Homo sapiens: one gene and its partners. The protein of the gene in region 3 interacts with the protein of the main gene of each other region in a biochemical or structural test. Each region holds a gene or a part of one and is shown on either strand. Other genes may lie near its edges. The genes, in order: PGAM5, PPP3CA, UBE4B and CNTN2.

The links.
Region 1: of the proteins of UBE4B (region 3) and PGAM5, one has a biochemical effect on the other in vitro, tested with the Homo sapiens proteins (one study listed by BioGRID).
Region 2: of the proteins of UBE4B (region 3) and PPP3CA, one has a biochemical effect on the other in vitro, tested with the Homo sapiens proteins (one study listed by BioGRID).
Region 4: of the proteins of UBE4B (region 3) and CNTN2, one has a biochemical effect on the other in vitro, tested with the Homo sapiens proteins (one study listed by BioGRID).

Annotation. Positions count from the first base shown.
Region 1 is NC_000012.12:132,713,841-132,720,864, forward strand, and holds part of PGAM5 (serine/threonine-protein phosphatase PGAM5, mitochondrial), read left to right. Parts: intron 1-1,017; coding exon 1,018-1,196; intron 1,197-3,598; coding exon 3,599-3,724; intron 3,725-3,869; coding exon 3,870-3,958; intron 3,959-4,146; coding exon 4,147-4,280; intron 4,281-4,921; coding exon of another isoform or gene 4,922-4,970; exon of another isoform or gene 4,971-5,327; intron 5,328-6,837; coding exon 6,838-6,988; 3' UTR 6,989-7,024. UniProt on the Homo sapiens protein: Mitochondrial serine/threonine phosphatase that dephosphorylates various substrates and thus plays a role in different biological processes including cellular senescence or mitophagy. Modulates cellular senescence by regulating mitochondrial dynamics.
Region 2 is NC_000004.12:101,337,503-101,344,526, forward strand, and holds part of PPP3CA (protein phosphatase 3 catalytic subunit alpha), read right to left. Parts: intron 1-7,024. UniProt on the Homo sapiens protein: Calcium-dependent, calmodulin-stimulated protein phosphatase which plays an essential role in the transduction of intracellular Ca(2+)-mediated signals. Many of the substrates contain a PxIxIT motif and/or a LxVP motif.
Region 3 is NC_000001.11:10,098,940-10,105,963, reverse strand, and holds part of UBE4B (ubiquitin conjugation factor E4 B), read right to left. Parts: intron 4,857-7,024; coding exon 4,769-4,856; exon of another isoform or gene 4,758-4,768; coding exon of another isoform or gene 4,740-4,757; intron 3,017-4,739; coding exon 2,872-3,016; intron 449-2,871; coding exon 220-448; intron 1-219. UniProt on the Homo sapiens protein: Ubiquitin-protein ligase that probably functions as an E3 ligase in conjunction with specific E1 and E2 ligases. May also function as an E4 ligase mediating the assembly of polyubiquitin chains on substrates ubiquitinated by another E3 ubiquitin ligase.
Region 4 is NC_000001.11:205,038,792-205,046,232, reverse strand, and holds the start of CNTN2 (contactin-2 precursor), read right to left. Parts: upstream 3,022-7,441; 5' UTR 2,839-3,021; intron 1-2,838. UniProt on the Homo sapiens protein: In conjunction with another transmembrane protein, CNTNAP2, contributes to the organization of axonal domains at nodes of Ranvier by maintaining voltage-gated potassium channels at the juxtaparanodal region. May be involved in cell adhesion.

The DNA of each region.
Region 1 (7,024 bases), on a different chromosome or scaffold from region 3:
AATGTTTTTGTAGAGACGGGGTCCCCCTGTGTTGCCCAGGCTAGTCTTGGACTCCTGGGCTCCAGTGATCTGCCCACCTCGGCCTCCCAAAGTGCTGGGATCCACTCTTTTTCAGATTCCAGCAGCTCTGGAACAGACCTTCATAATGGGAATGTTTTCTTCCTCACTGAGTGTTTGTTTATTTATTTATTTTCTGAGGCGGAGTCTCACTCTGTCGCCCAGACTGGAGTGCAGTGGCACGATCTCGGCTCTCTGCAACCTCCGCCTCCCAGGTTCAAGCGATTCTCCTGCCTCAGCCTCCCAAGTAGCTGGGATCACAGGCGTGTGCCACCAAGCCCGGCTAATTTTTGTATTTTGAGTAGAGGTGCAATTTCACCATGTTGGCCAGGCTAGTGTCGAACTCTTGACCTCAGTTGATCTGGCCACCTCAGCCTCCCAAATGCTGGGATTACACGTGTGAGCCACTGCACCCGGCCTGAGGGTCTAAAATGTGCTTAGTATGACTGAGGACATGATGTTTTAATTTTATTTAATTTTGCTTAAATTTTGAATTGAAACATCCTCATAGCTAGTGGCTGCTGTTGGGCATTGCAGTTCTAGGCTCTGCTGAAGCATCATGGTCAGGGAGGCCCATCTTGGCCCCGTGGACACTTTCCGCCTGCGCCCCGATAGCCGCTGTCCTCTTTCCTAGCCTGGCGTTCTCCGTAACCACAGTTGCGTTTGGGGTAGTCTGTCTCCTGCTGTTCACTGTCTGCCTCTCATTAGAGAAGAAGATGCACAGGGCTTTGCTTGTCTGTTTTGCTCTCCAGCGCATCACTCAGAACAGACCTGGCACTAGCTTTGTGGGAGGGAGAGTGGCGGTATGCTCAGAGAGGCCTCCCCAGGGCTGTGCCAAGGGCCTTGTCTTCTCTCCATGCTCTTCCCAAATAGTCTGACAATTTGGAAATAACATCTTGTCAGAAAAACTCAAACTTGGGAACAGAGGTCTCAAGGACATATCTTGTATTTCAACATCAGGCGAGAACCACTGTCTCTGATCAACGTGCGGAAGAGGAACGTGGAATCTGGGGAAGAAGAGCTGGCGTCCAAGCTGGACCACTACAAAGCCAAGGCCACGCGGCACATCTTCCTCATCAGGCATTCCCAGTACCACGTGGATGGCTCCCTGGAGAAGGACCGCACTCTGACCCCGCTGGGTATGTGGTGGGTTCAGATCCTCTGTGGACCCTCGTGGTTATGTGGCCAGGTGCATATCTGCTGGCGCCTTGGTTATGTGACTGGGTGCAGGTCCTCCGCCGACCCCCTTGGTCAGCTTTCTTGAAAGTGCTTGGGGCACTGGGCCTCCTGGGGCCCATGTCCGAGACCATCACCCCTGAATCACACATTATTACCAGTAACTGTCAGCTGAACTTGGACAGAAGACAAGCTTTTCAAAATGTCCTTACCTTGGCCGGGCGCGGTGGCTCACGCCTGTAATCCCAGCACTTTGGGAGGCCGAGGCAGGTGGATTACCTGAGGTCAGGAATTCGAGACCAGCCTGGCCAACCCGGCAAAACCCTGTCTCTACTAAAAGTACAAAAATTAGCCAGGTGCAGTGGTGGGCGCCTGTAGTCCCAGCTACTCGGGAAGCTGAGGCAGGAGAATGGTGTGAACCCTGGAGGCGGAGCTTGCAGTGAGCTGAGATCGCACCACTGCACTCCAGCCTGGGCGACAGAGCGAGACTCCGTCTCAAAAAAAAAAAAAATGTCCTTACCTTGGCCAGGCACGGTGGCTCACGCCTGTAATCCCAACACTTTGGGAGGCCGAGGCAGGTGGATCACCTGAGGTCAGGAGTTCGAGACCAGCCTGGCCAACAGGGCGAAACCTCGTCACTACTAAAAGTACAAAAATTAGCCGGGTGCAGTGGCAGGCACCTGTAATCCCAGCTACTAAGGAGGCTGAGACAGGAGAATTGCTTGACCCTGGGAGGTGGAGGTTGCAGTGAGCCAAGATTGCACCACTGCACTCTAGCCTAGGTAACAGAGTGAGACTCCGTCTCAAAAAAAAAAAGCCCTTAACTTTTAGCAAATGTTGGACAGATCTTGTTTGCATGAGACCAAATGCAGTGCATATCCCAGCAGTGATTTTATACCTGCTTGATGCCTTGGAAAGCGGCGTGGCTTGTGCCCTCGGCTGCTCACCTGGACCTGCTGCCAAAGACGCTTCTCTGCGGCCTGTGGCACTCACAGGCCTGATGCCTGGCGTCTGCTTGTTTGTTTGTTTTGAGACATAGTCCTGCTCTGTTACCCAGGCTGGAGTGCAGTGACGTGATCTTGGCCCGCTGCAACCTTTGCCTCCTGGGTTCAAGCAATTCTCCTGCCTCAGGCTCCCAAGTAGCTGGGACTACAGGCACACGCTGCCACTCCCAGCTATTTTTTTGTATTTTTAGTAGAGACGGGGTTTCACCGTGTTAGCCAGGATGGTCTCTATCTCCTGACCTTGTGATCCACCCGCCTCGGCCTCCCAAAGTACTGGGATTACAGGCGTGAGCCACCACACCCAGCCTAATTTTTTTTTTTTTTTGTATTTTTAGTAGAGATGGGGTTTCACCATATTGGCCAGGCTGGTCTCAAACTCCTGACCTCGTAATCCGCCCGCCTTGGCCTCCCAAAGTGCTAGGGTGACAGGTGTGAGCCACCGCGCCCGGCCTGGCCTCTGCCTCTTAATGCCCTGTTGAACAGGCGGGACTGAGCAACAGGATCCCGCCTGTCCCCACTGGCAGATGCTGCATAGACAGCGTCCAGGAGGGTCCTTCCACCTTGTCCTTGTGTCCCTGTGCAGGTGGATCTGTAGAAGAAATGCCTGCCTAGAGAAGGAAATGCAGGGTGGGCTAAGGTAGAGTTTACATTTTGAAAAGTTCTTCGAATGGGATAGTGCCTGTTCATGCACATACTAAAAGTTCAGATAGTAAAAATGTGCAGGGCTGTCCTCCACAGACGCCGCCCCCCAGTCCCCAGAGCTGTCCTGGCTGCTTGTGCACAAAGAAAGTGGAGTGACAGATGCAGGTGTGGCTGCATCCAGTGGCTTCGGCCTTCCTGAGGCGTTTTCACCTGGATGCAAAAGCTCACAAGAGAAAAGGCATCTGCACTGGTGTCCGGCCCCCACATAGCAGCTTGGGGTGTTTAGGTCCCGCTGTGTTGGCCTCCGCCATGGCGCGTGGTTGGGGGCCTGTGAGGCTCAGGTTTTGGACACAGTTGAGTGAGGGTGACAAGGGGGGACCCAGAAACCACCCCTGGGCCCCACCAAGCGCCAGCCACCATCCGGTTTGCTTGCTGCTCCATTGGTGGAATCAGATGCATGTTTTTTCCTGTATGGGGGTGAAGACAGTTGAGTGCCGGCCCCTCTGGCCCAAGCCTCGGGCGGGCAGGAGCCATCGGCTGAGCTTGCTGAGCTTGCTGCCTGATCAGGGGTCGTGTTTGCGGGCGGAGGAGGGGGTGTTTGCGGGCGGAGGAGGGGGTGTTTGAGGGTGGAGGAGGGCGTGTTTGCGGGCGGAGGAGGGGGTGTTTGAGGGTGGAGGAGGGGGTGCAGGTGCGGCACTCAGGTGCCTTTCACCTTCCAGGTCGGGAGCAGGCTGAACTCACTGGGCTCCGCCTGGCAAGCTTGGGGTTGAAGTTTAATAAAATCGTCCATTCGTCTATGACGCGCGCCATAGAGACCACCGATATCATCAGCCGGCACCTGCCAGGTGAGTGCTGCGCGCGGGGCCTCCATGCTTGCAGCAGTGGGCGGCTCGTGGCAGGGCCCCGGCCTGAGCTCCTGGCCACCGGGAGGTCACAGCATCTCCGCCGGCGGGGCCGCCTCACCCAGCGCTTCGCTGTGCTTCTCTGCAGGCGTCTGCAAAGTCAGCACAGATCTGCTGCGGGAAGGCGCCCCCATCGAGCCAGACCCGCCCGTGTCTCATTGGAAGCCGGAAGCTGTGGTAAAAACCTCCCCGGGGGGCAGCTGTGTCACCCTCGCCTTCCCTGGGCAAAGCGGCCCTGCTGGGCTCACCATCCACCACGTGCCCGGCCGTCCCACGGGCTTCCCCGGGCGGCGATGGGGTCTGTCCTCCTGACACCCGCCCTGCCCGAGCACTTCCGCACTGACGGCTCCTCACTCTGCCCCCAGCAGTATTACGAAGACGGAGCCCGGATCGAGGCCGCCTTCCGGAACTACATCCACCGCGCAGATGCCAGGCAGGAGGAGGACAGTTACGAGATCTTCATCTGTCACGCCAACGTCATCCGCTACATCGTGTGCAGGTAGGCAGCTGCTGGGCTGGGCGTGGTCTAAAATAATTTCAGACTTAGAGAAAAGCATGAGGAAGAAGCCGAGCGAGACCCTCCTCCACTGCCGATGCCACCCTAGTCAGGCCTCACCAGCCCCCGGGCGTCCACTTCCCGCGAGTCCTAGTCAGTTACGCGGTAGGTGGCGTGTTACTTGGAGCTTCTCATAAGGCTGTTTTGGGCAAGGGTGGTGCAGACAGGGAGGGACCCCTGTGGTGTCCTGGGTGGGGTGCGTGCTGGGTGGGGGGTCCTGAGTGGGGTGCGTGCTGGGTGGGGGTGTCCTGGGTGGGGTGTGTGCTGGGTGGGGGGTCCTGGGTGGGGTGCGTGCTGGGTGGGGGTGTCCTGGGTGGGGTGCGTGCTGGGTGGGGGTGTCCTGGGTGGGGTGCGTGCTGGGTGGGGGTGTCCTGGGTGGGGTGCGTGCTGGGTGGGGGGTCCTGGGTGGGGTGCGTGCTGGGTGGGGGTGTCCTGGGTGGGGTGCGTGCTGGGTGGGGGGTCCTGGGTACGGTGCATGCTGGGCGTCCGCACTGCCCTGGTTGTTTTCCCTTTGTAATTGAACGTCCTGTTTCCCCTCAAACTCGACCAACCACCTTCTGCCTCCGGCTGGATCCCACTGGCAGCATCCCGCCGCTGTTGTCCGCTGGGGATTTTGTGCTTCTGGGGTCCTGACCTCTTTCACTTGCTGATCTGTGGGCGCTCCCACCCGTGTGCCAGCGTGACGGCTCGGGGTGTCCGCTCCCCTCTGGGTCGAGGCCACAGCTGAGTCACGTTGCTGCTCGGGCTGCTCCCTCGGGGGGCCCTTGTCCCTCAACCTGCTCTGGTGCCCCACTCTCAGCACCACAGAATGATCCGGGTTCAGGTTGCGTTTTCCCTGCCACCACCCTGCAATCAGCCACTTCTTTAAGGAGCTCCAGGGCTGCAGCCACGTTAGAGGGCCCCTTGGGGGGCAGGGCCAGCTCTACGGTTACATGCCTGAAACAGTCAGAAGGGTTGGCCAAATCTCACTAAATGCAAATTTGAAACAAATTTGCCTCTTCTCTGGATCCATTAGGAAATGTGTGTGTGGGCTCCGCAGCTGAGGGGGCCCTCTTGAGTGTGACGAGTCCTGTGGTGGGAGGACAGGACGGCACTGGTCAGTGATGCCGTGTGAGGCTGGGCCCTGGTCTCTGCCCGTCTGTCACCTGGGCCTGTCACCAGGGCTGGGGCTGCTGGGAGCACCATGGTCAAGAGCAGCAGCTCCCAGAAAGTCGAGGATGTACGGGCCGAGATTCTCAAGCTTGGCTCCAGACCAGATAGAGCTTTTCTGGGGGTTGGAGCCTCCGGGTGGTGTGGCCTCAGGCTAAGTGAGTACCTGTTTGCTGTGAGTCGTTCGTTGCCTCCTGTCTGTGCTTGTGAATGAGCCATATGGGTGGCTTCTATGCTGCCACCACCACCTTGTGTGTCCATGACACAGTCACCCCGAGGTGACACAAATGCTAAAAATGCACAGAAATAACCGGGGCGGGAGAGTGGAGCCGACCTGAGTCCACACAGTGGTGAGGGCCAGGCACGTGCACCTGGACACGAGAATATGGCTGTGCTGTTCCGGCCGGTGCCGCCAGGCAGCCCTGAGGAGGCTCGGGAAGCAGCGTGAGGGTGGCCATGCGGCCCACTGAGACAGGGCGGTGGGTGGCTCAGAGGCGATGAAGGCAACTCCGAGCTTTTCCGCAAATGCGAATTGTGCCTAAGAAGTGCATGAAGATGCCACGGCGGGTAGATCCCATCTCCGTTCTTTGCTTTCCCAGAAAGGGACCTGTTGCACTAACTGGCTGCTCCCTGCTTTTATATGGGAAAAGCAGAAATTAAACTGTGTTTCCTCGTAAGAAGTCAGCGTTGTTCTGATCTGTGCAAATCTTGAGTTGGGGTTGGGCCCCTGTCCTAAAGAGGGCAGGTCCCCAAGTGTGATGGCTCCATTCATGTCGATCCCAGTCATCGATTCACGTCGATCCCAGCCAGATCTTCCCCGAGAAGCCCCGACTGAAGACAGGAGCGGCTCGGCTGATGTGTACCCCGGCCCTGAGGCTGCTCTGAGACTTCTGAGGGGCTCAGCCTCTGTTTGTAGAACAGAGCCCCCTGGCACAGCCTGGCCCAGCCTCTTTTAAGGACAGAGTCCCCTGGCTCTAGCCCAGCCCGTTTTTTTTTTTTTAGACAGAATCTCGCTCTGTCACCCAGGCTGGAGTGCAGTGGCGCGATCTCAGCTCACTGCAAGCTCCGCCTCCCGGGTTCACGCCATTCTTCTGCCTCAGCCTCCCAAGTAGCTGGGACTACAGGTGCCTGCTATCACGCCCAGCTAATTTTTTGTATTTTTAGTAGAGATGGGGTTTCACCGTGTTAGCTGGGATGGTCTCGATCTCCTGACCTTGTGATCCACCCGCCTGGCCTCCCAAAGTGCTGGGATTACAGGTGTGAGCCACCATGCCCGGCCTAGCTCAGCCCGTTTTAAGGACAGAGCCCCCTGGCTCTAACGTGCTCTTTCTCTCTCTCTCTCTCTCCCCAGAGCACTGCAGTTTCCTCCTGAAGGCTGGCTCCGGCTCTCCCTCAATAATGGCAGCATCACCCACCTGGTGATCCGACCCAACGGCCGAGTTGCGCTCAGGACCCTCGGGGACACGGGGTTCATGCCTCCCGACAAGATCACTCGATCCTGAGGGCTCCGGCCTCTCCTTCCCTCTGTCCTCCCTGCA
Region 2 (7,024 bases), on a different chromosome or scaffold from region 3:
CCAGAGGCGAGGACAACAGAGATTCCCTCCTGGTTGCTGAATGCAAATCAACAGAAGCTAACAGTGAGATTTTATGTAGGAAACTATAGTTTCCTTAGTCTTCAACTCTTTGAAATGAAAGTATTTCTGTGTTAGTGAGACAAAGTATATCCCGGCCCATGTGAGAGACTGGAAATATTCATTCAGAACAAAAATAAAATGGAGCTTGGAAAGGCCCAGCTGGCTTTCTTTAACCAGAAGTCATACAACCACATCTGGGGTAGCGCAGCTTTAGCGGTCTTCTGTAAGGATGGGACTAAGAGCAAGTGCCTCACTATACTGCCACTCTGTTGGTGTGGAGTCCAGTACTGAGCTTTTCTAAAAACACTCACCATGCAGACATGCCATCAGGAGAGGTGACTCATGAGCAGCCTGTACTCGTGATGGGCCTGAAGATTTTTTATTGGTATATACACAGTAAGTTATCACCTATCGGGGTGTACAGTATGTTTTAATCTCTGTTCTAATTCCTAATCTTATACATTTTTATTCATTTGAATTTGCACATTGTGAAGACTAATATGGGCCTCCCATATGCTTGTCAAATGGCTCTCCCCTCAATTTAGTATCATCACCTGTCTTCCTGAGAAAGAAACCATCACTCACCTTTGAGGAAATCAACCTATACACCTTGTGACAATAATCCATTAAAAGTCAAGCACTCCCTATGGGAAGGCCACTTCTGCCAGTTATGCTTCTGCATGCTGGCTACCGAGCAAAATCCATATAATGCCAGTTAATAAAATACAGCACTTCAAAAACTCACAGGAAAACACACTTCTACAAAGACTGGAGCTTACAAGTCAAGACTCATCAGACATTTGTGTACTGATCACGATTTAAGATTGACAAAATTTCAAAACATAAAGGAACCCCATAATTTAGAAATTTAAATCCATCTTATCCTTTGTTATTTCATTCCTGTAACAACTATGTATCAAATGCCTATTCTACAGCAGGCCCTGTGCTAGAGCTAAAGACACAAAAGTAGATAGAACTTCTGTCTCTAGGACTTTCCACCTCCTGGGGAGGAGAGGCAGACAAGGAAACAAGTCATCACAGCAACATGCTCTTATCAAGGTGTCCTCTGTGAGAAGGAAGAGGCTCAATTCCTTTATTCTAAGTGAAGGTGTCAGGAGATGCAGGTCTCAAAGGAGGTAACTTCTGAACTGAAGCTCGAAAGAAGAGAACTGAATGATCAGGAGAACATTTGTTATCCCAATAATCAGGCCCAGCAGAACAGGAATGTGTGTAACTTTAATAGCATTAAATATACATGAACCAACAATGCCAGATTTATCATTTTTTAAAATCAAATTCCTTTGTAAAAAGCAAACAAAAAATAAAACAAACTTGAATTCCTGACTCAGGTTCCATCTTTTTAAGAATATATCTTGCTTTTAATTTAACTTGATAAAACAGCATAACTTACAAGATGTTTTAAAAACAAATGTCAACGGATGGCTCAAAGCCCACTTGTGAGAATCTAAGGAGACAGCAGCGTTAGTGCCACCTTTTTCTTAACTTTTCATAGCCCATGTATCTTTCCACTGGATGGCATCCAATGACATTTTGGGGGCCAGAGAAGGGAAGGAGGTCATGTTGGAGAAGGCAGCATTTCTGGATTACAGAAGCATTATAGGAAATGATATATTGAGATGTAAACAGGGAAAGAGGTTTTTTCCAATTTGTTCTTTTTCATGAAATTTACCAGGTCATTTTATCTTCAAGTCCAAATCTAGACAATAACTAAAATACACAAATCATCCAATAATCAAACACTCAGTGATTAACATATTTTTTCTCATTTGTCAGAAATTGACCAGCCTAAAGGGGAATACAATAAAAACTGAAAGACAGCTGTCAGGTTCAAGCAAATAAATTAAATTGAATAGAACTTAGCCTTTTACATTCAGCAGGGACAAAGTGAGTTCAAGTGACCGAACAGAACAGCTCTCATTCTAATTGTGTAACCTTATTAATGCCTCCTTCTCATACTCCATGCCCTGATTGGGCTGGAGAAAGAAGCACTCCAATTCGCCAGTCACCATACAGAACCAGTTACAAATGGAACTTAATATAATACACTCAAAATAAAAACAATTTAGAAGGCTTCAGGAGGCACATGAGAATTTTACAATATCCATCTCATTCAAAAGAATTTATTCAGTGCATTTAATAAGCAAGGCATTGAGCTAGGGACCAATAAGACAATGACCATTTTTTCCAAACTAAAACTCTGAATACAAATATTAACAATTTTATGCAACTTCCAAGTATATGCAGCAACCAAGACACATAGTTTAGACACTGACATACTAGAATTTCCAAAACATTCTGATATTACATAGAAAGAACTGGACATTTTAAATAAAAACTACTACTAATTCTTCCCCAAAGAAAGGAAAACTGGGACAATAAAATCACCACAGAAAGACTCTAAGTCTAAGAATCTTAGAGCTGATGAAAATTTTTTTAATTTAGCTCCATATAAATAAAACTCTCTCTTTGAACATCAACCATCATTCTTCCGGTTTCACAGTTGTCAAAAGTACCTGAAATTGACAAACATTGTAAACTAGTATGTCATAATATTGAGATAGCTTTTATAAATCCCTGATATCTATTTGTTTCCCTCTTTTGCAGACAGACACAAGCAAAATTTCCAGTTGCAAGAGACAGAAGTTCACAGACAGGTAGACCATTTTTTAAAATAGAGTCATAGTATATTTTGCTGTGAGACAAAAGCATGGATAAGGAAAACAAAAAGGACAGCAAAGTTCTATTCCTCTCTATGATGGTCTCAAAAAGAATCTACCTGAATTCCAAAAACATAGCATTTTAATAATTTATTGCCACTTTGTCAGTGAGGGCTTTTATTTTTTTAATATCTAAAGCTTCCACTACCCGAGTGCATATTTGTTAAAACGGATTTGAGATACCAGCAACTGGGCTAGGTCATAAAGTTGATAACCCATCTGATTTAAGCCATTATTCAGAACCCCTAACCATGGAGGAATACACAATTGTTATTTCACTTCTCATATGAAATATAATTGATGGATTCATATAAAAGATGGAATTATTGTAAAATAAAATGATTTTAAAATGCTGAAAATGTCAAGAGTACTAAAGACTTAATTTACAAACTGAAATCCTATTTCATTGCCTACATCAGTCCTACCTAATGACTGCTTTAAAAATAGGAATGCAACACCTCAGAATCACTGGCTGATATTTTCACCTGAGCCTGCTCTAGAAATTAACAAAATCATCAAATCTGAAGATTTTGTTTGTCAAACCAGAGCATCAGTGTGGGTCATTAAGTGGAGTTCAGAAAAACAGGCTTAAGACAACATCCTTCAAAATGAAAGTAAATAACATTCTTTTGCAGGAGAGTATACTATTCTATTTCTGTGTATATATTTACCTGAACAGAAAGCAATGTTTAACAGTATTTCTTTATAAACCTCAGGCCAAGGTCAGACTAAATTATAATATTTATCACCAGAATTTGATGTCTGCTAAAAACAGAAATATAAAAAGCTTCCTCTCCTAATCAAACTATTTTACATAGTTAATTATTTAGTAAAACAAAATGCGAAATGAAATGTGAAGATATCTTAAATATACCAAAAGAAGTGGCCATTTTCTTTTTTTCTTTTTCTTTTTTTTTTTTTTAAGAGATATGGTCTTGCTATGTTGCCCAAGCTTCCACCTCAGCATCCCAAAGTGCTAGGATTATAGGTGTGAGCCACCACACCTGGCCAGTGGCAATTTTCAAAAATGTTTTCAAGCAAGAAAAGCCTCTTTAATAAAGAAAATAATGTGTTTACACTTACCTGTAACCATTCTATCTATTCTGTCTCCACTTCTTTAACTATAAAAATAAATGTCATCATAAGCTACTCTTGACCCAAGGCACTCATGGCTTTCAATGCTAATGGTTCTGACTATTCTCAGGTGACCAGAAAATACATAACACGTGTCATTTCTAATTCTGTGTTAGCAGTGACTGAATCGCCATTACCAGGCAGTGGACAAAGTGTTAACCACACACTCCCCATTTCCCATTTGATTATCCTTCGGTCCTCACAAGTTGACAGTGGATACAATTACTCCCCTTTTATGTATAGAGAAAGTTAGCCTGTGAAGTTATAACATATACCAGTGGAATTACAGAAAGCTGAAGTTCAAGGTCTCACCATATCCCTCTTGTATATCAAGAGACTGCTACATCAGAAAGTTGCTGGAAAAAAATTGACAAAATGATTTTTAGTAATTATCAAAATTCTATATCATGAATCACCACCATTCTTCATAGTTCTAGAAGTATTCAAAATGGTAATTTAACCATATTTGCTAAAAGGAGAGTGAGTATCTGCAAAAATGCTGTTTTCCAATGAGGTCACCCTAAATGGATTCTTTATTTGGTGTCATAATTAGTTTCAAATTTACACATAGCTGACACAAAAAAAGATAAGGAAAAGCATGAGAGGCCAATTACAAAAGTTATAAATGAATGGTCTATCAAAATTATATTTCATCTCGCTAAAATTACAAATAAAACAAAGAGACAAATAGATTTTAAAAGGCATATTTTTAAACAAATCTTAGAGTAAACCTCATTAATTAGATTCTAGATGTTAATTTTTTCCTATTTTAACTGGATGTCTTAAGATAAACTGTCCATTTAAAATAAGGGTTCTATCCCACACTTCTCAGAAAAACTATTATCTTCAAAATGTTGATTATTCTAATTGATGGCATTTTAGAATCACTGGAATTCCCCTGAATCCCAGTCTCAATTGTTGCATTAATCATTAAATTTACTGAATGTTTTTACAACAATGCACTTGTGTTATATTCACTTTATAATAGTCCCAAAAGGAAATGTTAATAAATAGACCAACCTAACTCGTAACGAACAGGATGAATTTGCATACTGTTCACTAAGTATTGAAAAGAATTTGTTCTCTTGGTATATTAACAATGCTGGAACTATGTTGTTTATACTTTTTGGTTATCGGACCCCTTTCTTCACATCCAATGCTGATGTAAACTTCAGCCAACAAACACTGGTGTTTTTTCACAATAAATTTAAATTCATGATATTGAATTAATAAAGTTTCACTATACTCAAATTGAAAACCAGATACATGAAACTCAACTGATGGTAACAAAATGTCAGTAAAATAAATTCACAAGCTCTTCCTGGAACACCACAAATAAATGACATTATTTACTACTCTGTTGCATCAAGGTCTAAACACGACAGTTACTACGAATGTGACATATTTGTTTTCTTTTTAAGTAGTATTATCAGTCTCACCCAGCTAGAAATACTAGTGGCTGGAATCCTTATTTACTTAATAATACTTAACTAGCATCTTCTTGCTTCTATGATCTTAGCATCTTTCAGAATTCTCCTATGTGTACTCTGTCTACATGAAGTACGTAAGCTGGCAATACACCTGAAAAACAGCTCATTCTCTATGGCCAAAAGCAACCTTACACAAAGCACAACAACGCATTATCTATAGTTTCTGAGAGATTCCACAAAACTCTTCTCAGAAATTTATCCCTCAACAGCCTCCCATAGTTTCTAAAATTTCTACCATTACCATCGGTTTGAGTTAAGGTAGAAGTCCCATCACAAAATACTTGGAGATGGGAACAGAGGGAAGGTAGGTTAAGAGATTTAACAAAGCCAAATACTCATTATCACATAGGGTTTAATTTCCTCTAAGTATTTTTAACTATCACATAGCAAAGTTCCATGACCAATAGGGAATGCTAGGGCCAGACAAAGCATTCTAGGCAGGAACAGAGAGAAATGAAGAAAAGCCAAAGTTTGAGACAAGGCCTGTAGAGTATCACTAAGAGAAAAATCAGGACGGGGGTCAAGGGGAGGAAGACAGTTATTCTTCTATTTATTGCCCTCGGTTTGCTGTATGTATCTTTAAAAATATAATGTAAAGCAATAAACGGACCATATTATTTTGATTTCCAGCAAAGGTCATTACCAAGATGTTTTCTCTGAATTTTTCTACTTTCCATTGTTTTAATCCAAGAAGAGTCAAAATGATACAGCACTAGTTTTGCTAACTGAAGTAACTTTCTCTCCTGGGATAATCTAAACAAATACTTTTCATCTCCACTGCCATCATTCTCTTTCATTTTTAAGGTTTAGAAAACCGATCAGGGTCTCTGAATACATGCTAGCAGATTCTATAAACCTCAAAAATAACATAGTTGAGACAGACTCAACCTACGTCTCTAAAGCTGCATTCTAAAAGTACAATTAAGAAAACAGTCACATCATATTACTACAAACCACAAGCACATCTTTATTTGTAAATAGCAATTTCTTATACAACAAAAGCCAGATGACACTAATAAATATAACTGTAAGCAAATGCCATGGCATGCCATGGTAATAACAATCTGAATATTTATTTTTGTATGTATATATAGTAAATAATACTACACATACTTCGTAAAAAAGAGAAAACTTATGGAGCACAAATACTTCCTCAAAGATAATTTCTTTTCTGTATTAAAGAATGAGTTAAATAGCCATTGAGATGAAGTTCTAACAAAATTTCAAGTAAATAATGGTTTCTAAACTCCATATTATCTAATTTTTGCAAATTAAATCACTTGTTAATATGTTTCACATCCAGCATACGCGTACTTTCCATTCATTCAGTACGTGTATACATACTCAAGGGGAAATATTATTTCACAGAAAGCTAATAATCAAAATAGATTATCTCAAATAACTAATAATAAAAATCTTATGTATGACAAAAGGTTGAATCCAACCTTGTATAATGCCTTTCATGCCAATAATATTCTACAAGAAAACAGGATAAACAATAACAGTGTATCCACCTTAAAATCAGGATTCATCAACAAAACTTCTATAAACAAAATTTCACATTTCACATCTCACATCAGGATCTCTATCAAAACAAATGCA
Region 3 (7,024 bases):
TCTAAAATTTCATCTAGCAATATCTTAACCATAGAGAGCCAAAAAATAATAATCTAGAAAAGAGAATTCCACTTCCAATGACTAAATCCACCTCCCCAAATATGATATATGCCATACCCTGTATGACACTGATTAACACTGTCAACAAACATTCCCTTCTCCTACGTAGTTCACAGTTATTTTACTACCAGTAAGATGTGCAAAGAGAACCACACTGACCTAGACAAAGAGCTGGCACCAAAGGAAGCCACGCTGCAGAACATGGGGCTTGTTCCTGGATTGGAGCCAGTGTTTAGCAAGAGATTTCTGTCTGGTGACCGTGCTGCTGCAGCAATTGGCTGTGATGTGGCTGTCAGACTGGCAAATGGGTTTTCATCTCTGGTCTGAGTGGACATCATTAGCACTTCCATTAAAATCTGGCCAATCAAGTCCTTAAAATCGGAGAATACTGTTGGAAAGGCAGAACAAAGAACAGGTTACACACAGTTCGAACACAGGTTACACAGCCCTTGAATAAGCCAGCTGACCCCAAATGGTTCGATGCAGTATCCTGGATTAGATTCTGGAATGGTAAAAGGATATTAGTGGAAAACCTAAATAAAGCCTTGTGTTTAGTTAGTAGTAATTTCTTAGTTTTGACAAATGTACCATGGTTATATAAGATATTAACGTCAGGGGAAACTGGGTAAAGTATATATAGGAACTCCCTGCACTAACTGAAACTATTCCAAAATTAAAAGTTTATTAAAAAGAAAGTTGGGGTACAGTCATTGAGAGTTACCGCTGATGTATATTAATTGTAAAAAGAAGCTACTCCCAACTATAGAGGTTACTTTATTATACTACAAATGCAACTGGGTTAATATTTCTTAGTCTAGATATGTTTTATAGATAGTAATAAAACTATTAAGTCCAAGGTTCAAAAGATTTTATGAAGGGTCCAACATCTAGTCACCATGTGGCTTTCAGGAGCAAATGCTACATTCTAGCTTCCTTCTTATTCTTTGCAGCTCCCAGTTGATTTACTGTTGGTCTTTAGATACATTTTAAATACCACTAAACAAAAGTTTTAACTCATGGAAATTTTATCTGATTTGGTTATTTAAAATTGCCACTTACATGTGTAAGACAGAGTTGCCACTTAACATGTGTAAGACACTTGTTTTAACAAAAGTTTTAACTCATGGAAATTTTATCTGATTTGGTTATTTAAAATTGCCACTTACATGTGTAAGACAGATTTGCCACTTACATGTGTAAGACAGAGAATCTTAAGATTTATAATAAGAATAACAAGTAGCAGAGTTTCAAATACATGGTCTGCTCCATTAGCAGAGTTAATAAGTAAAATCAGAAATAGTCTTATCTATCCTCCAGAAATACAAAGGACTTTTTTTTTCCCTCCTCAGAAGATAGGCAGCATAGAAAAGAGAAAGGTGATCTCCTTGATATTCACGCATCCATTTAAAATCTATCTATTGAGGGACTATTTTGTGCAAGATATCCTTCTAGGGATACATCAATGAGTAAAACAGACAAAAATCCCTACCATGAGGGAAGTTACATTCCAGTGATAGGCCAAAAAAACCACTCCAGCACACCTCCCATACCTCTTCTGCGTTCCAAATGACTACTGTAAAGAAAAAGGATAGTGCCCTATGATGCTGATATCTTGCTAAGAGTTTTATTATTTTGTTACAAGCTTGGCCTCTTAAAGTGGAATATCAGAAACACAGCAAAATGTCATTATGTTCTATCTTGCTAAGCAATTTAACCAAATAGACCAATTCCACCGTCTATACATGGCTTCATAGGCACTTAAAGCAGGTATAGCTCATACAGAACACTTCTCTCAGGATCCCTGGAGACCACCCACTATATCTATACTTCATAAGAGGAGGTAAGGCCAGGCTCGGTGGCTCAAGCCTGTAATCCCAGCACTTTGGGAGGCCGAGGCAGGCAGATCACGAGGTCAAGAGATCGAGACCATCCTGGCCAACATGGTGAAATCCTGTCTCTACTAAAACTACAAAAATGAGGCCAGGCACGGTGGCTCATGCCTGTAATCCCAGCACTTTGGGAGGCCAAGGCGGGCGGATCACGAGATCAGGAGATCGAGACCGTCCTGGCCAACATGGTGAAACCCTGTCTCTACTAAAAATACAAGAATTAGCTGGGTGTGGTGGCGCATGCCTGTAATCCCAACTCGGGAGGCTGAGGCTGGAGAATTGCTTGAACCCAGGAGGTGGGAGTTGCAGTGAGCCAAGACTGCGCCACTGCACTCCAGCCTGGTGCCAGAGCAAGACTCTGTCTCAAAAAAAAAAAAAAAAACAAAAACAAAACAAACAAAAAAAACTACAAAAATTAGCTGGGCGTGGTGGTGCACGCCTGTAGTCCCAGCTACTCCAGTGGCCGAGGCAGAAGAATCACTTGAACTCGGGAGGCAGAAGTTGCAGTCAGCTGAGATCATGCCACTGCACTCCAGCCTGGTGATAGGGTGAGATTCCATCTCAAAATAAATAAATAAATAAATAAATAAATAAATAAATAAATAAATAAATAAAGAGGAGGTAATGCTCTAAGCACCTTCTTACTACAAAGAGAAAAACTTCAACCCTGAGAAAATGGAGACCATTAACCTATTTACATAGTATTATAGAAATCATGGAAATGAAAAATAAGTTATCGATAAGATCAGTGGAAAGGGAAGAAAGTGGCTAAACAATTGTGTCCTCATCAAGAAGTATCCCTGTCATCAAAAATACAACCCAAGAGCAAGATGGAGTGAATGTGGATAACAGAGGGCAAAGATCTCACATCTTATTTTCTTGTCGAGTACTCTGCAGTAAGACTGCTGAGCTAGATTCCTACCTTCTTTTGGGTTCTGCTTAAACTGTGCAGAAAGAGAAGAAAGAAAGATGACATCTCTGTCCCGGTCCTTCCAAGAGACACGGAAGATCTTACAGACCAGCTGTAAGGCCTGCTCTTCAGACACTTCAGGGCCCGAGGAAGGCTCCTGGTGAAGAAGAAGATTTGCAGGTTAATTTCAAATAAGAGGTATGAGTTAGGTGTTTCAATAGGAATACGTTATTCTGATTTAATTCATTATTAGTGATGATATTTTAAAAATGCATGAAACCATTCACCCACTGATTAGGGGAAAAGTAAGCCTATTCCTATAACATCAAAGTTACAACATCTAAGTCTCATGAGCTTACAATACAATCTATGGGGAGCATAAAAGAGCAAAGATGGCCGGGCGTGGTGGCTCACACCTGTAATCCCAGCATTCTGGAAGGCCGAGGCCAGTGGATCACCTGAGGTCAGGAGCTCAAGACCAGCCTGGCCAACATGGTGAAACCCTGTCTCTACTAAAAATACAAAAATTAGCCAGGCGCGGTTGCGGGCCTGGCTACTCGGAGCTACTTGGGAGGCTGAGGCAGGAGAATCGCTTGAACCCAGGAGGCGGAGGTTGTGGTGAACCAAGATCACGCCATTGCACTCCAGCCTGGGCAACAGAGTGAGGCCCTGTCTCAAAAAAAAAAAAAAAAAAAAAAAAAAAAAAAAAAAAAGAGCAAAGTCATTATCAAAAGTCACCAAGGAAAAATATGTGACAGAGGATGTACATATCCTATCTATTTACTTTTCTGAATTCCATAGGACCAGGTTAACACTCCAGGTGCATGACCAATTTTCCTCCAGGAATTTTTCAAAATTGTAACATTTCTCATTACATACCACCACAGATAAAACAGCATATAAAAAAGAATTTTGTAAACATTAAAGAACTATACAAAATAAAGCACTGCACCACTAGGAGGCTACAGTGCAACTTCTTATTTTTTCCTTTGTTTGTCTTTATTTTTGTTTACAGTGCAACTTCCAATAATCATTAACATGTGTTGCTAAAGGATTCCTAATAATTTACTAAACAGAAAGTGATGTAATTATCTATATTAATACACACACACACACACACACACACACCCTAAATGCAGAGCACTAAGCTCAGGTGATATTCAAATATAAAGGCTTCATGTTTTCCAAAACCTTCTACTTGCGACTAGATTCTACATATTCTTGCTTCAATTCCCAGTCATTTTCCTCAGAATACTGCTAAAGATGTGATGATCTACTTGCTTAAAAGCAAAAGACCAGGCCAGGCGCAGTGGCTCACGCCTGTAATCCCACACTTTGGGAAGCCAAGGCAGGTGGATCATAAGGTCAATAGATCAAGACCATCCTGGCTAACACGGTGAAAACCCATCTCTACTAAAAATACAAAAAATTAGCTGGGCGTGGTGGCGGGCGCCTGTAGTCCCAGCTACTTGGGAAGCTGAGGCAGGAGAATGGTGTGAACCTGGGAGGCGGAGCTTGCAGTGAGCCGAGATCGCACCACTGCACTCCAGCCTGGGCGACAGAGCGAGACTCTGTCTCAAAAAAAAAAAAAAAAAAAAAAAAAAAAGCAAAAGACCAACAGAAAGAATTCTAATTTGCTCTAAATTAGTTCCTATTACAACCTAAATTTACTGATAAAATCATGGCCCTGAACCAAAAACAGATGGATATTATCAGATCAAAGGACTGAGTTACACTTTCATGAATAAGGGTAATCTAGGTTATTCATTTTTCCTCAAAAGAATAAAAATAATCACCTGCCTAGGACTTCCTGATTTCGGGTGGCCCCAATCTAACAGACTCTACAGATACAAGACATGAAATGTGTTTATTTCTATTACCTGTACCAAGGGCTTCATCGCTTACCAACCTTATCACTGAGGCTCCGCTTTTCTCTTCGATCATTTTCATCAACCTCCATGTTTTCAATTCCTGAATCCACATCCACCTGGGACATGCTTAAAGTACAAAAGACAAACAAGCCTTTTACCTTTTATAAATCCGCACAATGTCACTGTAGCTGCTGGGTGAGAAAATGTTTTAAAATATCAGTTAATCAGGAAAGGAAAATGATAATGGTCCATCTTTTTTCTTATTAATTTTTAAGAGTTCTTCATAAATTAGGATCTAAACAATTTGTCTCTTATACATGTTGGAAATATTTTTCCTAAGTTGTCATTTTCTTGGGCTTACTTTTTAAAAGTATATCATTGGCCGAGTGCAGTGGCTCACGCCTGTAATCCCAGCACTTTGGGAGGCCAAGGCAGGTGGATCACCTGAGGTCAGGAGTTCGAGATCAGCCTGACCAACATGGAGAAACCCCATCTCTACTAAAAATATAAAATTAGTCAGGCGTGGTGGCACATGCCTGTAATCCCAGCTACTCGGCAGGCTGATGCAGCAGAATCACTTGAACTCAGGACACAGAGGTTGCGGTAAGCCGAGATCGCACCATTGCACTCCAGCCTGGGCAACAAGAGCGAAACTCCGTCTCAAATAAATAAATAAATAAAAGTATATCATTAAAGTAGGTTACCTATATATAGTATTTTAAAATGACATAAAATTCAACCAGGCCAGGTATATTGGCATGCGCCTATGGTCCGAGCTACCTAGGAGGCTGAAGCTGGAGGATCACTTTAGCCCAGAAGTTTGAGGCTGTATGCACTATTACTGTGCCTGTGAATAACCACTGTATCCCAGCCTGGGCAGCATAGCAAGACTCTGGCTCTAAAAAAAATTAAATAAACATTTTTAAAAATTTAATTGAGAAAATAGGCCAGGCACGATGGCTCACACCTGTAATCCCAGCACTTTGGGAGGCCGAGGTGGGCGGATCACAAGGTCAGGAAATCGAGACCATCCTGGCTAACATGGTGAAACCCGTCTCTACTAAAAAATACAAAAAATTAGCCGGGCATGGTGGTGGGCACCTGTAGGCCCAGCTACTCAGGAGGCCGAGGCGGGAGAATGGCCTGAACCCGGGAGGCAGAGCTCGCAGTGAGCCAAGACTGCGCCACTGCACTCCAGCCTGGGCGACAGAGCGAGACTCCATCTCAAAAAAATAAAAAATAAAAATAAAAAATTTAATTAAGAAAATAAAAAACTCAACTGAAGTCTTATTATAAAAACTGGTTAAGTACATATCATTTATCCCCGATTGAACAATTGCCCTAGCACCATTTACTGGAAAGATCATCCTTTTTACATTAATATGAAAGCTCCTATGTCACGTGTCCAATTTTCATTAACGAGTGGGTCTATTTCTGGAGACTCATTACTGTTCTGTTAGACAATTTGTCTGTCCCTGGCCAATACCACTTTGTCTTAATTACTAAAACTTCACAAATCTTGATATCTGCTAGGTCAATGTCTCCACTTTATTCTTCTCCTTTAAGAGGTTTTGCTATCCTTGGCTCTTTCCTCTTCTACACATACTTAGGAATCAGCCTGAGGAATTCCTTAAAAACCCTCCCGGGATTTTGACCAAAATTTTTTTCACTCTTAGAGATCAACTTGGGGAGAAGTAATATATTACTGAGTTTTCATTACTCTCCAAGTATTAAGATCTTCTTTAAGGTCTATCAATAAGCTTTAGTAATTTTCTCTATAAAAATTTTATACTTCTTTTGCTAAATTTATTCCTAGGTACCATATGTTAATACTTTTTAATGAAATTGTGAATGGCACCTTTTTAAAAATTACGTTTTCTAACTTTTTGTTGCTGGCAGACAGGAATGCAACTGATTTTAAATATACACTTCTTATAAGCAACTTATTTATTTATACATAGAAAGTTTACATGTAAATAATTTTTTCTTTTTTAGACAGAGTCTTGCTCTGTCACCCAGGCTGTAGTGCAGTGGTGCAATCTTGGCTCACTGCAACCCCTGCCTCCCAGGTTCAAGCAATTCTCCTGCCTCAGCCTCCCAAATAACTGGGATTACAGGCACGCACCACCATGCCCGGCTAATTTTTTTTGTATTTTTAGTGGAAACAGGGTTTTACCATGTTGGCTAGGCTTGTCTCGAACTCCTGACCTCAAGTGATCTGTCTGCTTCGGCCTCCCAAAAGTGCTGGGATTACAGGTGTGAGCCACTGTGCCCAGCCAACATGTAAATAATTT
Region 4 (7,441 bases), about 190 Mb from region 3:
TTGCTTTTGTTTGCATTCTCTTTGGTAAACAAAGAAACATGGGCTAATCTTGTAGCAAGGAATCATCAAACTAAGAAAGGACTTACTCTAGGATGGTTACCGTCAGGATACGGAGCCCACAGAAACTCCCATAAATGTTCCAGGTTAGCAACAGCCTCTGGGTGGTTTGTTTAGATTGGGGTTGTAGTCCTGAAGGATGAGGGGGTGGCCAGCATGCATGAGGGGATGAAAAGGATGTCTGCCTTCTTATGGATTCCTGAGTCACATCCACCTTTTACCATTTGAAAGAGGATTACTAGAAGTTGGAAGAAATTTACAGGGTCAGCCAGCCCAACCTTTGCCTCTAGGCAGGACTCTCTAACCTTGGACCAGACCCCAGTTCTCCACACCATCCTTAGAGTCATCTGAAAGGAGACTGCCCCACCTCCTCATGGCTCACTCTTCTAGCCAGGAAGTGTCTCCTGCAGTCTAACTTAAGTCCCTCTGGCTTCCCTGGCATATTCTTTGCTCTGGTTCTTCCTCCCCTGCATATCAATCACCTCTTCTCCAACCCCCTGGTTCTGCCCTAGGAATCCCTCCAAAAATACAAATACCACCCACACTCAGGCTTAGAGATTGTCTTTGAAATACGCTTTCTCACCAACGTTTGGCTCAAGGAGGTTTCTGAAGAGGGCACCATGCATCCTCCAAACCACCCCAAATGCGTTGCTTCCCTGGTGACTTTAGAGGCAGAAAGGATGCCTTGGGGTACACCTGTCTATGTACATGCTCCTAAGGAGTAAGTTTGGTCAGCCAGAGACGAGATGTGCAATCACCCCGTTAAGCACAATTCCTCGGAGGCCCATCCCACATGTGTCTCTATTTGAACAACTGCTGGCAGAGAAGGTGCTGGAATGGAGTTGCATAAGGAGTGAAATCTGGCAGGGGAAATGGTGGCGGCGGGAGGCTGAGGGCTGAAGCCGGTGGAGTACACGCGATGAGAGAAGGGAGTGCGAGGAAAGAAGGAGTAGAGGAAGGGAGGAGAGTAAGAGAGAAAGAGCCGGGAATGAGAGCAGACTCCTGGAGTCTGAGGCACTCATCTGCATAAGGAGTGTGCCTCTGCTTCCCTCACCGCTCATGGTGTGAGCACAGTGGTCTCTGCACCTGTGAGGCAGGTGGACCTTGGGTGACTTTGACATCATCAGGTCAGGGGCCCTTTCCTGTCTGTCTCACCTCCTGCCTCCCTCTTATTCGCTGAGGACTTCCACGGGAGATTAGGAAGGACTCTGACCTTGTGGCAAAAGCCCTGTCCATGGTTCTGCAGCTTGGCTAGAAAGGGGTTAACTGGTGGGCACCCTGGGGAGGGGCTTGGATGCTGCTGTCTTTAAGGGGAGAGCTCCCTTCTCCCAAGGCCAGGAGTGAGGGCACCTGTTGTGACCTCCAGGCCATCTCCCTGTCCAGGTGCGATCACAGCAGCCTCTCCCACAGGTGGCCCACCTTTTGCTGCACTCGATCTCCAGTGGCTCATCCGGCCCCTCTGAGTGGGACCAGGAGGTAGAGAGACTCGGAGGCTAAGTGAGCTGAGGCGTCTTTGGCCAGACGGTTGGGAGAGGAGGCCGAAACTGTTGCCCAGACGAGACCAGAACATCACCTGTGCACTGGGTTTCTTGGGCTGTTCCTCCTCCCAGCTCCTTCTGAGCAGAGGGAAAAGATGCTGAAACCCACCTTTCTCCAGGGCTGGGGCCATGGCATGCACAACCCCACTCCCTCCTGGCCTCACTGGACCCCCCCCCCCAGGACACAGGCTCAACCCCCAGGGGTCTGGGGCTAGAGGGTGCCCGTCTCCATCCCCAAGTAGCAGCAGGATTCTCCCCTTCCATAGGCACTGCCTTCTCCATGCCCCGCTGCTTCCCAGACCTGAGAGACCCTCTTGGAGAAGGTGACAGGATTCAGCTCTGGACACTCACTGGCTGGGGCTGCCCCCCACCTCCAGCCCATTATGTAAGCCCCACGGTGCTGGGCAGAAGGATTGCCCTCTCTTTCCAGAACTCCCCAGCTCTGCCCCTTCCCTTCCCCATACCATTCTGGCCCCAGCCCCTTTCCTTACTGGAAAGCCAAACTTTGTGCAAATTCTTCCCTCCCACCAGTGAGGATGGGGGGGAGGGATTTGAGGAGAAGCTAAGGTTGGGAGGGGGAAGGGAAGGAAAGGAATTTCAGCCCGGTAGCCCCAGCCTCTCGCCCTTTGGGATGTGACTGGCCTCAGGACTCTCCTCCCCGAGTCCCAGTTCCTGGACAGGCCCTTGCCCAAACTTGTGCTCCACTCTCCCCTCTCTCTTCCACAGCCCCCCTCTCCATCCAGCTGAAGCAAGACTTTGCAAAGAGGTCACCCTGCAGAGGTAGACCCTGGGTGACCTCAAAACTGGGGACTCCGGCTCAATTCCATGCAGGGACTTCTGGGGCAGGCCAGGGCCCAGGGCCTGGCTGTATGGACTGGTCCTGTCCTGGACCGGGTGCCCAGGGCCGGCCCAGGAGAAACTGCCCTCTCCACAGGCAGCTGCCACTGCCCGCTGGCCAACTGGAATTCCTGGACACACTCCTGGGGTCCAGCTTTTCGGCCAGGCTCGGCCTGAGAGAGCCCTGCGGGATGCCGCCCACGTAGACAGGGCGGAGGGGAGCCCCAGCACCCACCCTGGGGCTGAGGGGAGAAGTCAGAACGGCCCCAGCCTGCCAGTGTTCCTGTCCCTGTTCCCTCCCAAGTTACAAGGGGGATATTTACAGGAACTGAGCCGGGAGCCCCGGCCCATAACAGCACGCAGGGAAGTCCCTGGGTTGGAGGAGACAAAAGCGGTTGGCACCTACCTGGGGCGAGAGAAGGGTGTTGGCTGGGGCAGGTGGATGCTGCCCGAGTCGGTGAGCCGGGGCCGGCCGGGCCGCCAGCCCCTGTCTGGGCCGCTGTCCTTTGGGCCCTGGCGGCCTCAGCCGCTCGCTGTCCGGGTGCGGCGGCGGCCGCGGCGGCGGTGGCGGGTGAGGGCGCGTGTGTGTGAGCGCGCCCGGAGCCACTGCAGCATCTCTGCATCAAGATGTGCTCCTCCCTCTCCCAGGCTCCGCTCACTGGCTGGCTCTGGTCCTCAGCCAACGCTCGGGGGCCCTGGAGATGGCTTCCTTCTGCCCCCCTCCCACCCCACTTCCGTCCCCACCCTCCTGGCTTTACCTCATTTGCTGTCATTTAAGGACCAGGGAGCGAGCCCAGCGCGCGTCTTCCATAATGCATGGGCCGCTCATGGACAGGCCGCGGGGCGCTGTCTGGCCCGCCTGCCCTCCCGATCCTGCCCAGCCCCACTTCTAGTCCCCCTGCCCAGGGCTGAAGGGGCAGGAGAGGGGCGGGGTGAAGAGGGAAAAGAAAGTGGCTCTTACTCCTCAAACCCTGGAGACCCATGGAGCCAAAACTCCTGGTTTCCCCAGAAATCCCCTATCCGAGGAAGAGATCCAAATCAGAAATCCCAGCTTGCTGTGTGGGGCAAGTGGCAGGGAGGGGCTGTCTCTGTTGCCCGGTCCACCCCATGTTCCTCTTTATTGTTTCCCTTGTTCAAAAGTAGTTTGAGCTTTTTGTCAAAATATCTAAATATTAGAGGACATTTAAAAATACATAGTGAAAGTCCCTCAACCACTACTCTTAATAAATCTAAGTACATGCCCCCAGGTTTATTATTTTCGTGTATACAATTACATGGGTTAGTAGGGTTATTTCACACAAATGTGATTACATAAAACAGTAGGATTGGCCAAAGACTTTTAACTGTGTAACTGATCTTGGACACTTTTACGCATCAGTACGTTTGGATCCAATCCCATTTTTAAGCAACCAGCAGTGTGATGTCATGAAAAGCTCCCTGGATTAGGGGTCTGGGTGTCTGAAGCATACTCTGGGCTCCACAACCGACTGGCTGTGTGTGCTTGGCTAGGTGCCCTGCCCTCTCTGAGCCTCGCTGGTACCTGAAGGGATTAAAGATGGACACAGTCCTGCCAGCTCTGAGATTCTAAGTGCTCACCCTTGTCAGCGATGCCTTTCTCCTGCCCTGCTCCGGTCACGTGGGGGAGTGCCCAGGAAGGCTGTGGCCCGGAGGCGGAGGGACCAGCCATCTGCGGCACCAGTCGGCCCTGTCAGGCTGTCACTGTTGTCTCACCCCCCTCTGATCTGCCTGCTGTCCAGCTTGCACAGGCAAGACCGGTGAGCAGTCCAGATGCTGCAACAGCTGGCAGGGCCAGGCCAGCCTCCCAGTTTTAAATGGCTATACCTGTCAAGCCTGGATCATGGCTCCATGTCTCCCTGAGTGGAGGAGGTCCTGGGGACCTGGGCCAGAATGAGAGGGTCTGGAAAAGGAGAAGGAGTCGGGGAGGTTCTGCTGCTCAGCCTCCAAGGCTGGAATGTCTGCCCAGGTCCCACATGCGCTCCCCTCCTTTCCTTCTGAGCCCCTCCAAAGGGCTTGCCCAACTTGAGAGATAGTCTTCTTTGTTCCTGATGGGGAGGACTTGGATTTTGCTAATGATGTTTCTTAAATAATGTTGAATGCTGTTATATAGACAGACACATCAACCCCTTGCCAGGATATCTTTCCCTTCCTTCCCCTGCCCACACTGTCCTTGCCTATCTGTATGTCTGAGGGCTGGCACATTGGCTCTGAGCTCCTGAGGTGAACCTTGCTCTTTGGCACCATTCAAGTCAGCCTGGGCTCCAAAGAGAGGCTCTGCAAGTTCTCTCCTAGCAGAAAACGGCAGGAACAAGTCCTTGCCAAGAAAAGGATGCTATGTCTGCTGCAGGGGGCTGACGGGCCAGGAAATAGGCTGGCCCAGGAACCAACAGTCTGGAAATGCTTGCAAGGATTGCTTTAGACGGAGACAGCTGTCTTTGTGACTCTATTTTAGGACAGCTGCTGCCCTGTGGTGGGAGCTGGGTCTCTGGGGAGGGTCGTTAGCACAGGTGACTTGGGTCTTAAAGACTCTCAGATCTCAATGCAACCAGCATGCTCCATGTGGACTCTGGCAGACACAATAAGTGAAAACAAGAACATTTGCCAAGCCTAGACTTGGATGGGGAGACAGTTCCCAAAGTCTCATCTTCTCACTTGTCTGAAGCTCTCAGTGAAGTCTAGTATGAATGAGTTTGGGGAGATTAGGGGGATCTGCACTCCCAGTCTCTGAGATGCTCCTGTTCCTGAGGAGAGAGTGGGGTGGGCATTTGGGGGTGCAGGCTGAGTTTTGCTTGTGGGGCCCATTAGCTTGATAATAACAGAAATAATATCTGTTTTGAATGCCTCCCACATGCCGGGAGCTGTGCTAAATGCTTTACCTGAATTACTTGCGCAAGAGGTCCATGTTGTTATTATCCTCACTTTTCAGATGTTGCTCAGTAAGAGTAAGGAACTTGCTCAAAAGAAATAGTAAACAAGTGGAACCCTGGGCAACGTGGCGAAACCCCGTCTCAACAAAAAACACACAAAAATTAGCCAGTGTGGCAGTGCACACCTGTAGTCCCAGCTACCTAGGAGGCTGAGGTAGAAAGATCACCTGAGCCTGGGAGGTTAAGCCTGCAGTGAGCTGTGATCGTGCCACTGCACTCCAGCCTAGATGACAGAGTGAGGCCTGGGATCGGCCTCCAGCATCCTGGCTTAGCCACCGTGCCATGGACTCCAGCTACCTACTGTCTGTTCTTTTGAGGTGGGCAAAATAGGGGGCAGAACAGTTTCTTCTTCTTTGGTGACATCCAGAGCCCACAATCTTCAGTGCAGCTGACCATAAGGGCCACCTCTCCTTTCTGTGGCTGATCAATATGACTCCATGTTGTCCAGAGCTGGGACTCCACATCTCAAAGTTGAGTCCCCACAGACTTTCAAACAGGGCAAGAAAGGGCCAGTGAAGATAATCAGGTGGCTAGTCAAATGGCTTATAAATTTGTCCGCAAACATGTGGTGCTCCCTTGGTGGTGGTGGGTGGGGATCAGAAAGCATTTTGAGGGCCACCCAACCCTGCCCAGACCATCTGCTTCTTCCTACTGTAGCCACACAAGATTGATAGCAATGGAATCCAGTGGGTCTCTAACCGATCAAGAAGGGACCTCTAGGCCCCATCCCTGGGGACAAGTGGGGAGGAGATGAGACCCTGCCATGGCCCCAGGATGCTGCAGCTTTGCTGTCTCTTTCCTCACCACTCCCCCGCCTCACCTCTCCTTTCCTGGCCTCTCCCGCCACCAGCATCTTTGCCCAGACCCTTTTCCCAGGAGGCCATGTATTTATGGAGCAGCTCCTCTGCCTGGAATGTAGGGATCCAAGAGCCAGGGGATGCGGTCTTCAAAGTGCCAGTGACCTTTTTGGAAGCAGTGTGACAGTGGTAACAGGACTGTCCATCCACAGCTCTGGGGAAAACTGATATGGCCATAAGGAAAAGCTCTGCAGACAGACCCGTTTGACACCCAGTCCTGCTACTGAGGAGATGTGAGGCCATGGGCAAGCCACATACCTCTTCACCCAGAATATGGGGATGAAGACACATACCTCACTGAGTTGATGTGAGTGTTGAGTTACACGTGAAGTAGCTAGCACAGCAGGTGCTCAATAAATGTCAGTATTTCCCTTTTGGGATTTAGCCTCCCTCATCTGTAAAACAAGGATATGAGGCAGAGCAGTAAGGGCTGCAAGTGGTTGGGGTGGCTCTGGATTTGTAGTCAAGAGAACTGGACTCTGTCCCAGCTCTGTCACTCCTACCTGGATGACTCTGGGCAAGTAACAGAATGACACTTAATCGCCCAGATAATCCATTTCTTCACCAGTAAAATAGGAATGATCCTACTCCTATCTAGGATGGTAGTGAGGATATGTGAATTAAACATAATGGTTTTTAAAAGCACTTTGAATTGCAAAGTGCCATATCAAATACTGATGGCCATTCCCTCAGCTATGCAGTCCAAAAGGTAGGGATTATCTCATCAGTCCGTATTCTCCCAGTCCCCCACCCTCCTGTTTAGCACAGTGCCTGGTGCATGGTGGAGACTCAATAAATATTTGTTGACTGGGTGAATGAATGAAGGAGAGTAGCTATAGTAACCATTCAGAGGATGAGGAGAGAGGGAGGTAGGATGTGGGTGAAGCTTTCAGTGGGGGTGGGTGGGTGCATCTTGAATTGAGCCTGGATGGACAGAGAGGAGGTGGGGAATGTGTTTCTGGCATGGGGGCATGTGGTGTGGCAGGAGCCAAGATGTGGGGCCTGGGAAGGCCATGATTTGTGTAATGCCTGGAGAAGCCAAGTTGACCTAGCAGGGGTGCTGGAAGGAAGATCTCAATGCCCTGTCTGCATTTGCCTTCCTAATTTCATGTGAGGGCCCAGAGGGGTCTGTGGCCTGGAGGGGCCTAATTATTCTCTTTGCCATTTCAACCCAGGGCTCTTGCAGCTCCTTTTTCAGGCTTATAAT